Homo sapiens: one gene and its partner. The protein of the gene in region 1 interacts with the protein of each later gene in a pairwise test. Each region holds a gene or a part of one and is shown in the gene's direction. Other genes may lie near its edges.

The links.
Region 2: the proteins of EXOSC7 (region 1) and EXOSC10 interact in binary tests that used the Homo sapiens proteins (3 or more experiments, as listed by UniProt).

The regions. Positions count from the first base shown.
Region 1 is NC_000003.12:44,999,673-45,007,243, forward strand, and holds part of EXOSC7 (exosome complex component RRP42), read left to right. Parts: intron 1-1,865; coding exon 1,866-1,936; intron 1,937-5,618; coding exon 5,619-5,742; intron 5,743-7,571. UniProt on the Homo sapiens protein: Non-catalytic component of the RNA exosome complex which has 3'->5' exoribonuclease activity and participates in a multitude of cellular RNA processing and degradation events.
Region 2 is NC_000001.11:11,068,870-11,075,869, reverse strand, and holds part of EXOSC10 (exosome complex component 10), read left to right. Parts: intron 1-1,543; coding exon 1,544-1,639; intron 1,640-1,861; coding exon 1,862-1,936; intron 1,937-3,698; coding exon 3,699-3,783; intron 3,784-4,881; coding exon of another isoform or gene 4,882-4,896; coding exon 4,897-4,970; intron 4,971-6,139; coding exon 6,140-6,311; intron 6,312-7,000. UniProt on the Homo sapiens protein: Catalytic component of the RNA exosome complex which has 3'->5' exoribonuclease activity and participates in a multitude of cellular RNA processing and degradation events.

The DNA.
Region 1 (7,571 bases):
AGTGAGAATCCATCTTTAAAAAAAAAAAAAGTTGTCATCTTCAGAAAAGTTTTTAATGAATTAGAAAAGCATTTTTGAAAATTGTATTATTGATGAGGCCGATCCATTTTTTGGCATTCACATAGTTTTCATCAGTGGATGGGTGATATACTGAATAGATTGAGTCCATGTTTGAAGCGAGGTGGTGGAAATCTGTGAAGCAATCCTTGAAGCAAGATAGTAGAAAAGAAACCTCCTAATTTCTTTTTACCAACTGGTCTGGTTAGTCCTCAGACAGAGCCCATGTTCAAACAGATATTTGCTGGGCACCCTGCCATGTTTTCATACTTACTTACTTCAAACCTATTACAGTCAGATGACCCACCTGTTTCCAGTATTGGTTTTTTTCCCCTCAGTTCGGTTATTTTATGAGAGTGAAAATTTAACTTCATGGAAATTTCACTTTGCTTTGCTCTTTATAGTTCTCTAATGGCATCAGTTTTTACTCCAAGAGGGAAACCTGTTAGAACTTTGCTGCACTAACAACACACAGCTGACCTTTGGTGGGGTGATTGGTCACAAGCCTGTCTTTTGATGGGTTCTTTCACAAATAATCACTAACCTTCTTCCTCATAGCACCCCTTCTGTTGGGCTCTGGGGATAAAAGGATGAACAAAACTACAGAGTCCCAGCCTTTAGGAGTTCACAGTTCAACTGCAGAGGAGATAGACTCTAAACAAAAACAGAACTACATGACTTTTCTTTCTATGTGTGACTTCTCACCTTTCTTATTTGGGGCAGCCCAGTCGGCTTTATTCCATAACCTCAGGCCAAGGCCTCTCTAAAATGAGGACAGAAGGATATGCCACCTTCCAGTTAAATGTGCTCTAATTTTCCCTGCTAGATGAGCATACGTAAGTGCACTCAACACTTTCGCTCATGGGCAGAAGCTTGTCTGAGAGACTTTAGTCTTCATTATAAGTAATGTAAAACATGTAGTATTTCATGTCTGAGCATCAGATATACATTGATCATTACATACGAGAAGTAATTACACTAGTAAATGTGAACCTAGTAGCAGCCGCAACATCAGTAGCCACCGTTTTCTCCTTGTTTGGAGGCCAGGCATATGTTAGCAAAGATTAGAGTAACACTTGGAGTACAATTGGGAGCTATCTGGGGCAAAATAAAGGTGATCAGTCCCACCTTCAGGGCAGCCCCAACTGCCTGAAGTGCCTGTGAGAGGAGCCCACCCACAAGCCATGGCCTCTGAGTGTTGGTACCACAGCCCTGCCAACTGTGACCTTGTGTGCATGGGCCACGTAAGCACAGCTATGACAAGGCAGTGCCTGTAATTAGGGTGAAGGACTGTGTCAGTGAGTTGCAGTCACTGCATGGCTAGCCAGGAGAGAAGCCACATGTTATCTTTATTTTATAAACACACAGTCAGCATTTCTTAGAAATCAGTGTCCTTGACCACAGAATAGATTTAGGGAAAGAAAAAAAAAAATCGGTGTCCTGGCCGGGCGTGGTGGCTCATGCCTATACCCCAGCACTTTGGGAGGCTGAGGTAGGCGGATCACTTTTGGTCAGGAGTTCAAGACCAGCCTGGCCAACATGGTGAAACCCTAAAATACAAAAATTAGCTGGGGGTGGTGGCGCACACGTGTAATCCCAGCTATTCGGGAGGCTGAGGTGGGAGAATTACTTGAACCTGGGAGGCAGAGGTTGCAGTTAGCCAAGATTGCACCACTGCACTCCAGCCTGAGTGACAGAGCGAGACTCTGTCTCAAAAAAAAAAAAGCAGTGTCCTTTAACTGGGGTAATACCTAAAGTAATAAGTGATGCTTGGTTTTTTTTCCTTTTTCAATTCCTGTCTCCCTTAGCTTCTGGAATGTGGTGGAAATTTGTTTGATGCCATTTCCATTGCTGTAAAGGCTGCTCTCTTCAATACAAGGTAAGTCTTCCTAGAAACAGCTCTGCGAACCTGTGGAGAACCAGAGCAGACACTTGTAATGGAACACTGAGGAAATTTCTATTGTAGCTCATATGTGAAGATAACAGGGGGTTTTAACATTGAAAATGGTGACATCTAACGTTAAACTCCAGAAAAGATAGATTTCGTGAATTAAAACTACATATATACGTATATTCTGTATTTATTTTTTGTATTGTTATTTTTATAAATAGACACCTACCATTTAGAAAAATATTAGAAAACTACAGAGAAGCCAAGAAGAGTAGACACCACCTACAGGCCAACTATCCAAATACTATTACTGGGTGAACTCTATGGGGGCAAGGATTTTGCCTGTTTTGTACTTGCCTATATTCCTAGCACCATGAACAGTACCTGACACATAGTAAGTGCTTGCATATTGCTTGATTGTACACATGTGTGTTCTAAAAGCAGGGTAACAGGCTTCCCTTTGGTTTAAGAAGAGGAAATGGCTATTCCACATGGTTCAGCTTTCCAAACAGGTTGTGTAGAAGGGACAAGTTGCTATGCTTTTTTGGAGTTGACATTTATTCTGACTGATTGACCTTTCCCCCTTTTATGCTCCAAGTACTTTGAGGAAAATTTGCAGCATTTATGAGTAAATACGTGGGATAGGGTGTTCATCCTATGAGAGAGCCTACATTAAGGTAACAGAGGATCCTATTAAAAAACGAGGATTAGAAACTTCTAGGGATATAACCTAAGGACATAATTGAATAAATGAGCAAAGATGTTTATTCTAGGATGTTCATCACATCCTAGAATAAACATTACACTGCTTTGTAATGGTAAGAAACTGGAAACAACCTGAGTTTCACAATGGAGGGGATTGAAGTCCACACAGCAGCCTATTTAAAGGCATGTTAATATGGAAAATAGTTCACTAAATGCAGTCCCCTCATCCTGGTTTTTGTTTGTTGGTTTGTTGTATTTTACTTTGGTAGTTCTTATATGTAATGTGTCTGGAAATATGTACCCCCAAGTAATCACTGTAATTATTTTTCAGTGCTCATATTTTGGCCAACATAACATTTACCTGTTTTTTAGAGCTTTTCTATGATGAGTTTAGACTCCCTGTGTAATTTAGAGCAGACAAAAATTGCAGGCTGGAATATTTGCTGAGAATGAAAGCTGTAGAGTCCCCCACCCCTAGCTGTGCCACTAGGCTCCTTGTTGAGACTATTTGAAATGTGAGCCTGGCACTCTTGGCCACCGTGGGAGCTTGCGTGCCAGATCCCACAGCAGTAGCTGGTGCTCGGGCCCTGTTGGGGAAGGAAAGGAAGCTGTCATCTGATTTATCTTGAGCCTCAGAAATGACTCCCCATCTGCCAGCTGGTTCCTATAGGCACCCAGGCAAAAAGAGAGATTGGGAACCAGACAAGGCTGTTTAGCTGTGGGGGAGTTGCTGGCCAAACTGTATACCAGAAAGGTTAACCCAGCTGCTCAGGTAGGGGAGGACACCTGTCATGGGCACAGCCATAGTCTCATCCTCAGACCAAGAACAGCCCTGCAGGCAGCAAGGAATGGGGACTCTAAGGCATCAAGTCCCCCTGGTATGTGGAGAGACTATTGGCATATTCAGGGTCCTTTAGAAGGGTAAAGGCCACCTGAGGGTATTCTTTAGCCCTTCTGCCCAGGCTTGTTGTAGCCAAAGGGTTGGGAAATTGGGAGATACTGTGCGTGCGTGCGTGCGTGCGTGCGTGTGTGTGTGTATGTGTGTGTGTAAATGGTTGACAACTTGTTCAAATAGGATATTACTTAGTAGAACTTCCTCTGATGGGAAGGCTCCAAATGGGGAAGACCCTTACAGAACTCCTTGGCCCTTGTCAACATTCTCTGGCTGAAGCTCCCCTGATCTGATCTAGATGTTGCCTTGTGTATGGATGGCCAGCAGGGCTCAATCATGGGGGGTTTTGTTAGAGGAACTGGGAAAAGTACTAATGCTGTTTCCATTACAGTAGCTGGATGGACCACCTCTTCCTTCCTGGCTCCTCCAACCCAGCCTGGAGTGAATTGACTTTATAGGTTAAATGTGTTTTTCAGTACCCAGCTGAAGAAACAGAATGTTGCCAGCACCCCAGAAGCATCCCACACCTTCTGTACCCCCATGCAATTACACTCACTGATGATAACCAGCATCTTAAAAGAATAGATTACTTTTGTACTTGATATAAATGGTATCATATACTATGTTCTGTTTTGTGTCTGCCTCATTCACTAAGCATTGTGTTTTGAGAGATCTGTGTTGCTGCCTTAGTCATAGCTTGCTTTTTGCTGTATGGTGTTCCATTGTGTGACTTTGTCCAGTCTGCTGTTTATCCAGTCTACTGTCCAGTCTGCTGTTGTTTATCAGTCTACTGTTGATGGCCATCTGGTTCATTTCCAGTTTGAGGCTATTACAAATAGGGATGGGCATCATGAACATTTTGTGCATGTCTTTGGTGCACATATTTCTCTATTTCTGTTAGGGAGGAGTGTTCTGGGTTATAGGGTATGGCTATCTTTAGTTACGGTAGATGCTGCCAGTTTCACAAAGTGTTTTACCAGTTAACACTTCCACCAGCAGTGTATGTAAGAGTTCCGGGTTGTTTCACATTTTTGTCAACTCTTGCTTTTTTTTTTTGAGATGGAGTCTCACTCTGTCTCCCAGGCTGGACTGCAGTGGCGTGATCTCAGTTCACTGCAACCTCCACTTCCCAGGTTCAAGCGATTCTCTTACCTCAGCCTCCCAAGTAGCTGGGATTACAGGTGTGCACCACCACACCCAGCTAATTTTTGTATTTTTAGTAGAGATGGGGTTTCACCATCTTGGCCAGGCTGGTCTCGAACTCCTGACCTCAGGTGATCCTCCCGCCTTGGCCTCTGAAAGTACTGGGATTACAGGCATGAGCCACCATGCCTGGCGTTTTTTTTTTTTTGTTTTTTTTTTTAATAGTTATTTTGGTTGTGCCTTGGTATCACAGTGTAGTTTTAATTTGCATTTTTAATAGATATTTAAATTGAGCACCTTTTCTTGGTTTATTGGCTACTCAGACAGCCTCTTTTATGAAGACATCCAAATATATTCTACGTTTGAGTCTTTTGTCCATTTTTCTGTTGGGCTGTCTTTTTTTTGTTTAATAGGAATTCTTTATGTAATCTGTCAGGTAGTATTTTATCTCCCCAGATTATATTTTTAGTTTTTAAATGATGTCTTCTGATATACAGAAGTTCATGATGTTATAATTGAATATGTAACTTTTTTCTCTTTCTGTATCCTGTTCAAGAAATAGTTGTCTACTCCAAGGTCATGCAGATGTTTTTTTCTAAATGCTTTATTGTCTTGTCTTTTATTTTTTATATCTATGGTCTATTTGGTATGGCTTCGTGTGTGTGGTGTGAGGTAGGGATTGAGATTCTTTTTTTTCCATTGGGATATCTGATTGACCCAGCATCATTTTCTAAAAGATGCCTTTCCTCATTGCACTGCGGCGCCTCCTGTGTGCTTTTGACAGGGATGACAGGGATGAGGATGATAAAGAATAGGCATAGCGTGTCTTTCTCTTGTGAGACACAGGGATTCCAACTCCTATTCTCAATCTTAAAAAGAAGTTATTTTTCCTCCTCCAAGTGGGAATTTTACTAGTGCTTCTGCTTCCAGGATACCAAGGGTTCGAGTTTTGGAGGATGAAGAGGGGTCGAAGGACATTGAATTGTCAGATGACCCTTATGACTGCATACGACTAAGTGTGGAGAATGTCCCCTGCATTGTCACTCTGTGCAAGGTATAACTTGTATTTTATGGTTTTTGTCTTCCCTGTGGGTGTGGGTCTCCTCTAATCCCAACCTGCTGAGGTTACTTAATAAGTTAAGAAGTTGTAATACCACACACCATATAGAAGTAGCTTTTACCCAAATCCAATAATTTGGTTATACTAGAAACCACTACCACGAGTAGCTCTTTCTTTTCTTTTTAATTGGAAGATATGATGTGGTCCTGGGAGCCATGAGTGTGTTTGTAGTAATAGTAGCCAGAGTTTGTTAAGCTCCTTCCACATACCATGTGCTTCACTAAAGCACCATGTCTTTTAATTACCTCAACTCTATGGGGTCTAGGGTGGTTGAGTAGTGGCAGGGTGGCGAACACTGTCCCCCCTATGAAATGGGAGGTTGGAGCAGGTCTTGGGTATCATGAGTGGTTTTCACATAGAGGGCTGTGGAGCTGAACATCAGGCTGATGTGATATATAACTAATGCTGCCCCAGGCTGTGCAAAGAGGCCTGTATTGGCTATTGACTGGGATTGTAGCTAATTCCACTCAGGATTCATTATCTCAAAATAAAGCTAAACAGGTCAGGTTTAATTCCACTGAAATCACTTCATGAACAGGATGTGGTGAAGTGTTCAGACAACAGGATGGCAGGATGTTGGGTCTTGGCTTTTTTTTTTTTTTTTTTTTTTTTTTTTTGAGACAGTCTTGCTGCAACGCCCAGGCTGGAGTGCAATGGCGCGATCTCAGCTCACTGCAACCTCCGCCTCCCAGGTTCAAGCAATTCTTCTGCCTCAGCCTCCCAAATAGCTGGGATTACAGGCACGTGCCATCATGCCTGGCTAATTTTTGTATTTTTAGTAGAGACGGTGTTTCACCATGTTGGCCAGGCTGGTCTCAAACTCCTGACCTCGGGTGATCTGCCCACCTCAGCCTCCCAAAGTGCCGGGATTACAGGCATAAGCCACCGCACCTAGCCGGCTTGTTCTTTCTTGTTGTTTATTTGTTTTTTTTTTTTTTTTTTTTTTTGAGACAGAGTCTCGCTCTGTCGCCCAGGCCGGACTGCGGACTGCAGTGGTGCAATCTCGGCTCACTGTAAGCTCCGCTTCCTGGGTTCACGCCATTCTCCTGCCTCAGCCTCCCGAGTAGCTGGGACTACAGGCGCCCGCCACCGCGCCTGGCTAATTTTTTGTATTTTTAGTAGAGACGGGGTTTCACCTTGTTAGCCAGGATGGTCTCGATCTCCTGACCTCATGATCTGCCCGCCTCGGCCTCCCAAAGTGCTGGGATTACAGGCGTGAGCCACCGCGCCCGGCCTTGTTTTGAGACAGTGTTGCTCTGTTGCCCAGGCTGGAGTGCAGTAGCACAATCTAGGCTCACTGCAACCTCTGCTGCAACCCCCCCACCCGCCCCGGCTCAACCTCAAGCAACCCTTCCACCTCAGCCTCCCAAGTAGCTGGTACCACAGGCTCACACCACCATATCTGGCTATTTTTTTGTATTTTTGGTGGAGACAGGGTCTTGCCATGTTGCCTGGGCTGGTCTCAAACTCCTGAGCTCAAGCATTCCATTTTCCTCAGCTTCCCAAAGTGCTGGGAGGCATGAGCCGCTGCGCCCAGCCTTTGGCTTGTTCTTGAGTGTGTCCCTTAGCATGGACCCTCTTGATTCCCCCTTGCCATCAGTGAAACGTCCATGTGGCCTTGTGTGTGAATTTCTCCCTTGTGCCCCTCTGTTGGAAAGCCTTGGTGGCCTTTGTCTTGGTTGGTCTCTGAATTCTAGTTTTAAACCACCTTGCCCTGTTTTTCCATATCGTGTTTTTATTGTACCACCCACACAGTGGCCTGT
Region 2 (7,000 bases), on another chromosome or scaffold:
TTTTTTTTTTTTTTTTGTGACAGGATCTCATCCTGTCACCCAGGTGGGAGTGCAGTGGCACCATCCTGGCTCACTGCAACCTCTGCCTCCTGGGCTCAAGCAATCCCTCTGCCCCAGCCTTCTCTCGAGTAGCTGGGACTACAGGTGTATGCCACCATGCCCAGCCAATTTTTGTATGTTTTGTAGAGGTGGGGTTTCACCATGTCGCCCAGGCTTCACTTTGGTTTTTAACTTAATTACATAAATCTAGATTGGGCCTTGCTTTAGCAATTAATGAGAAAATACTAGGCGCTTTAGCTGACCTCAGAGCTAATTTGAGTCATGAAGATGATTTAGCAGCTAAGCGTGTTAGCATGAGCTCTGGGCTGCTTTGATACGGAAGTGCTGTTTGGTGTAAAGGAGGCTGTGGTCTCCCTGCACTCTTGTGTTGCAAGGGCGCATAATTACAGATGAAGCAAAAGGATAGCACATATTTATGAACCCAGTTGGAAGCAGCATTTTGTTGCATAATTTCAATGATTCCCTATAAAGATATGTAATACTAAATTTCAGGCCTGGCGTGGTGGCTCACACCTGTAATCCCAGCACTTTTGGAGGGCAAGGCGGGCATATCACCTGAGGTCAGGAGTTTGAGACCAGCCTGGCCAACATGGTGAAACCCTGTCTTTAATTAGCCGGGCATTGTGGCGCACGCTTGTAATCCCAGCTACTCGTGAGGCTGAGGCAGGAGAATCACTTGAATCCAGGAGGCGGAGGTTGCAGTGAGCAGAGATGGCACCACTGCACTCCAACCTGGGCAACAGAGCAAGACTCCACTCAAAAAAATAATACATACATACATAAAATAAATTTCAGGCATCAATTAAGACCTCATGTTCTAGAGCCAGACCATGGTGGGTTTAGATCCTTGGTCTGCTTGTATTCACTGCAAGCCTCTGAAAGACTGTCACAACCTCTGTAGGCCTCAGTTTCCTCCTCTGTAAGATGGTGAGAGTAATACCACCTCATAGGCTATGAGGACATGCTGAGAATTCACTGATCCAGCACATTGATATTGAAATGCTACTGTGTGCTGTTGCAGACACAACACCTTATACATAAGAGAGTGTATGAAAAATTAGCCTTAGCCATTGGTATTAATATCACTGTTACTGGCCGGGTGCGTGCGGTGGCTCACACCTGTAATCCCAGCACTTTGGGAAGCCAAGGCGGGTGGACCACTTGAGGTCAGGAGTTCAAGACCAGCCTGGCCAATATGGTGAAACCTGGTCTCTGCTAAAAATACAAAAATTAGCTGGGCATGGTGGCACGTGCCTGTAATCCCAGCTACTCAGGAGGCTGAGGCAGGAGAATCGCTTGAACACAGGAGGTGGAGGTTGCAGTGAGCAGAGATCACACCACTGTACTCCAGCCTGGGCAAAAGAGCGAGACTCTGTCTCCAGAAAAAAAAAAAAAATCACTGTTAACTGTTGCTCTCTTGCTTGCATCTTGATGTCACAGATGATCATGGTCATTAGTGATCGTTTTTTGTCTGTCCCTGCAGGAACCTAGTGCTGAAGACAGTAAAAAGGGTCCATTGACAGTTGCACAGAAAAAAGCCCAGAACATCATGGAGTCCTTTGAAAATCCATTTAGGATGGTGAGTAGTAGTTTTGTCAGGGCTGACAGGATATGCAGAGATGCCTACAGCTGTACATGCTTTTACCTGGGAAGGAAGCCTCTGAAGCCAGTGTGTCGGCTGCCCTGGTGTCCTGGCAAAGACGCTGACAAGGCACCAGCAACCCCCCATCTGAGCGCTTCTGCCCCGTGGCTCTAGATTCCGTTCCCGGCAGCGTTTCACACAGCCATTTCCTTCCTCCAGTTTCTGCCCTCACTGGGACACCGTGCTCCCGTCTCTCAGGCAGCGAAGTTCGATCCATCAACCAAAATCTATGAAGTAAGTGGACTTGTCACCTGTTCTAAAAGAGACTTTTTTTTTTTTTTTTTTTTTTTGAGATGGAGTCTCGCTTTGTCACCCAGGCTGGAGTGCAGAGGCACAATCTTGACTCACTGCAACCTCCACCTCCCAGGTTCAAGCAGTTCTGCCTCAGCCTCCCAAGTAGCTGGGATTACAGGCACCTGCTGTCATGCCCGGCTAATTTTTGTAGAGATGGGGTTTCACCATGTTGACCAGGCTGGTCTCGAACTCCTGACCTCAGGTGATCCACCCGCCTTGGCCTCCCAAAGTGCTGGGACTACAGACGTGAGCTACTGCGCCTGGCCCTAAAAGAGACTTTCTAAGAAAAGGGGATTTCTTAATTATTCATACCAGGTTTCTGTTTTAGACAAGCCTATCTCATCTGTGAATCCCGTGAAAATGAATGCAAAAGCCCTTTATTTTCTAGCATTGTTTCTAGGGAAAGGGTCCAGAACTTCAGTGAGATTCTTAAAAGCACTTGGGCTGGGCATGGTGGCTCACGCCTGTAATCCCAGCACTTTGAGAGGCCGAGGCGGGCGGATCATGAGGTCAGGAGATCGAAACCATCCTGGCTAACATGGTGAAACCCCGTCTCTACTAAAAATACAAAAAATTAGCCAGGCGTCGTGGCAGGCGCCTGTAGTCCCAGCTACTCGGGGGGCTGAGGCAGGAGAATCGCTTGAACCTGGGGGGCGGAGCTTGCAGTGAGCCGAGGTTGCGCCACTGCGCTCCAACCTGCGCGACAGAGCGAACTCTAGCCAAAAAAGAAAAAGAAAAGCACTTGGAAACTTTGTAAGAAACAAATCTTCATTTGCGGTTTTTAAATTGAGGTTTAATCTATATGTAGTAAAGTACACAAATATTAAATATACAGCTTGATGCATTTTTATAGATGTCTGTTACTTTAAGGCTCTTAAAGGTGACAGCTTTAATTTTAAAACACTCTATCTTACTTATCTGGCTTGTTTTTACCAGCATTATGAGTAAGAATGAGAGCACACCTCCCCTAGACCCTCTTGAGATGTTCCCCAGAGCCAGAACGTGAACTGTTGTTCGCAGCCTCCTTCCTCCCTTTAGGAAGCGTCTGCTCTGATGACATGGGCGACTGGCTTCCTCTGTGTGGCAGCAGAGCTCTTTTGTTAGGCAAAACCGAGAGGTCCCCCAGCCCCGTTCCTGTCCCTGAGTTAGCTTGCTATTTTTGGAAATGGGGAATCAGGTGGGGCTTCTGCCTTCTCTCCTCTTTTCCCCCCACGGGTTATGTCACACTGAACAACTGCACGTCCTGTGTGTTATGCCCAGTGTCACCTCCATGTGTTGTAACGCCATAGGTCCGTGGGGTGTCATAAAGAAACACAGCAGACTTGCGGAAGCCCAGCCTTGAGTCTGCTTCTGTCATTTACTGACCATGTCCCTTGGACAAGTTATTTACTCTCCCGGAGTCTGTTTGCTCATCTCTAAAGAGAGGGTGATGACAGTACCTTTTTCCCAGGGTTACAGAGGGATTGAATGAGATGATGGATGGCCCAGTGCCTGGAGGACAGTAGCACTTTGTCCTTAATAGGGATTTTAGCAATAAAGCCAGCATGAAATTTATTTTTCATGCCCTTAGATTTGAAAATTTATGACTTAGAATGTGTGTACTTCTTAGGTTAACCTGCCCTTCGTCACCTCATGAAAAGTAAGACAGACTTAGGTGGCTGACTTTGGAGGGTTTTTTTTGTTATATTTGCTTTCATTATAGATCAGCAACCGCTGGAAGCTGGCCCAGGTACAAGTACAAAAAGACTCTAAAGAAGCTGTCAAGAAGAAGGCAGCTGAGCAAACAGGTAACACTCACTTCCTTGCAACTCAGTCGGCTGTTAAAGAATGGCTGTTGCACACCCGCTGTTTCAGCCAAGTGCCAGATACGGCGATGAATGAAGCCCCTGTGGGGCTTCCCTTCTGCTGAGGGATGGTGGGCAATCAGTATCTATCCTGGCAGATGGCAGCAGGTGCTGTGCAGAGAGATTGGTGGGGAGTGCTGGAGGTGCTGTAGCTGTCTCGTTGGTGGTTGGAGAAGGCAGTCTAATGAATGCGACATTGACGAGACCTGCAGTGACCTAGAGAAGAGTTCTGGAGCCACAGCACAGCGAGCCCAGAGGCCCTGGGGCTAGTTCACTGGGCATGCTGAGCAGCAGCAAGTGGGCCTGCATGAGCAGAGCGGGTAGAGAAGAGCAGGAGATGGGGAAGGAGCCAGCAGAGGCCCACGGGATGACGCTGCCTTTTACTCTGAGTTCAGAAGCCAGGAGGGTGCTGAGCAGACGGGGGGAAGTGACTGACATGTGGCACTCTGGCTGCTGTGTCAACAGTAGACTATAGAGGACAGGATGGGAGTCCAGGAAGGGATAGGAGACATGGCAGTGGCTCAGGCGAGAGGGGATGGTGGCTTTGAGACCAGCGTGGGAGCAGAGGAGGTGGTGAGAAGCTGTCAGAGCCTTGATCTGTCCCATAGCAAAGCTGACAGCATTTGATGATGAGGTGGATGTGGCATGTGAGAAAAGGGAAGGGAACCTTGGATGAAGGTTTTGTCCTGAGCAGCTGGAAAGCTGGAGTTGCTGGCAGCCAAAGTAGCTGGTTTGAGCAGGTTTGTCCACGATGGTGATGGTGACGATCCTGTTAAACGCCCTCAGGTCCACAGGCCACTGAGCATTTAGGTTCACAGAAGAGGAGCAGGCAGGGCTGGGGAGGATCAGCTCACGTGTAGCTGAAGGTGGGCAGAGCACCTGAGCCTGAGCTCTGAGGCAGCCTGTCCTGCAGAGATGGGGGACCGGGGACCTGAGAGGGAGGAGGAATCAGCCGTGACAACCCCTGTGGCTAGGCCAAGTCGGAGGGGGATGGAGATGGAGGGGAGGGTGGTTGCTGGATTCACCAACTCCAGAGACAAGTTCTCTCCCTTGCAGCTGCCCGGGAACAGGCAAAGGAGGCGTGCAAAGCTGCAGCAGAACAGGCCATCTCCGTCCGACAGCAGGTCGTGGTATGTGCCAGCTTTTCTCCTTTTTCCTTTGAAAAACGATGCCCCTGCTTGTGGTCAGGATCTTCCTTGGATATCTTAGGGGGCTTGCCCTGTGCTTTATATTAAGTCCTGACTTCTTTCCGGTTCACCTTAGCTTGGCTATTAGTGTCTACCTCATTTCCGAAACCTCCACAAGATTGATATTGTAATTCCTCTTAACCTTCTTCCACTGTGTTTATGGTAAATATGCCAGACCACTCAACTGTAGTAGTAGAAAAGGTATTGAGGTTACAGTGCTGAAGCTTGTTGTGTGTCCTGCTGTGTCCTACAAAAATGTTGCATTCTAGAGAATGAAACCCCAGAGCACTCTGGAACTCTTTTTTTTTTTTTTTTTTTTTTGAAGTAGTGTCTACCTCTGTTGCACAGGCTGGAGTGCAGTGGCACAGTTGCAGCTCACTACAGCCTCAAACTCTTGGGCTCAAACGATCCTCCCTCCTCAACCACCCAAGTAGCTAGACCACAGGCACACACCACCATTCCCAGCTATTTTTTGTTATTGTTTTTGGTGGAGACGGGGTCTCACTATATTGCCCAGGCTATCACTCGAATTCTTAACCCCTGCCCCCTGCCTTTCCTTTTTTTTTTTTTTTTTTTTAATTTCCTTTTAAAAAAAAAATAGTGACATGGTCTTACTCTTACCCTGATGCCCAGGCTGGAGTACAGTGGTGCAATTATAGCTCATTGCAGCCTTGTACTCCTGGGTTCAAGTGATCCTCCCACCTCAGCCTCCCAAGTAGCTAGGACTACAAGCACGCACCACCATGCCCAGCTACATTTGTTTCTTTTTTTTTGTAGAGATAGGGGTCTTGCTATGTTGCCCAGGCTGGTCTCAGACTGCCTAAAGCAGTCCTCCCACCTAGGCCGCCCAAAGCACTGGAATTATAGGCATGAGCCACTGCACCTGGCCTGCTTGCCTTTCTTAAATGACCTCATGTCATTGTCCAGTGAGGAATTTGTTTCAGCTGACCCTGAGTGTTGGTCCCGAAGTTCCAGCCACAGCTCCTCTCCCCACCACTGACTGTTCTTCTTACCACTTAGGCAGCTGGGTCCCAGCTATTGCTGAGGCCGGTGGAGTTCCCTGTTCCCATGTGCCTCCCTGTTCCTCCCCCACATCTGTTCCTGATCTACAGCTAGAAAATGCTGCAAAGAAGAGAGAGCGAGCAACAAGCGACCCAAGGACCACAGAACAGAAACAAGAGAAGAAACGACTCAAAATTTCCAAGAAGCCAAAGGACCCAGAGCCACCAGAAAAAGAGTTTACGCCTTACGACTACAGCCAGTCAGACTTCAAGGCTTTTGCTGGTGAGGAAGTAATGGGGCCCCATACAGGGACATCTGTGCGCGTCAGAGGGGAGGAAGCCATAAAGAGACCACAATATAGGGGCCAAGTGAGTCCTGCACAAGGCATGGTGCTAGCCAGGAATTGTTGGAGTAGTCCAGAGAGGCCGTGGCAATGTGGACAGTCGCCTGCAGCCTCATTACCACCTCCTCCATGGGAGCTCAACTCATGGTGGCCTCCATGGTGGGTTAGCAAGATCACCTGTCACTTCCACTGTGACCAGGGCGCCATCCTTCCTCACTATAACTTGTGCCCATAAACCCTCTCTCTCTCTCTCACACACACACACACACAGAATTTTGTTTGTTGAAAAATCTCAAAGCCTATGACATGAACCCCTATGGCTGCTTGGGCTGTGAGAGTCCGTCTGCTTTGAAGGGGCTACAGATGGCATTCTCGACTCTAGCAGCCTTCGGAGCAACATGCTCCTTTGGAAAAGAGAAAGCAGAGGCCAGTCCACACAATGGCCCTTTATACAGGAGTGTCGCCTCAGAGCCCGAGTTCCTTATGGCATCACCCAGCACAGAGATCAGAATGGATTTCCTTATGTGCGGGGGCCACTGCTGTAGCCACCTGCCCCTAAGGTCCTGGGACTAGAGCTGAGAGAAATGGGCCTGGTTTTCAGACTGCCCACAGGGACCAGGATCGCTAT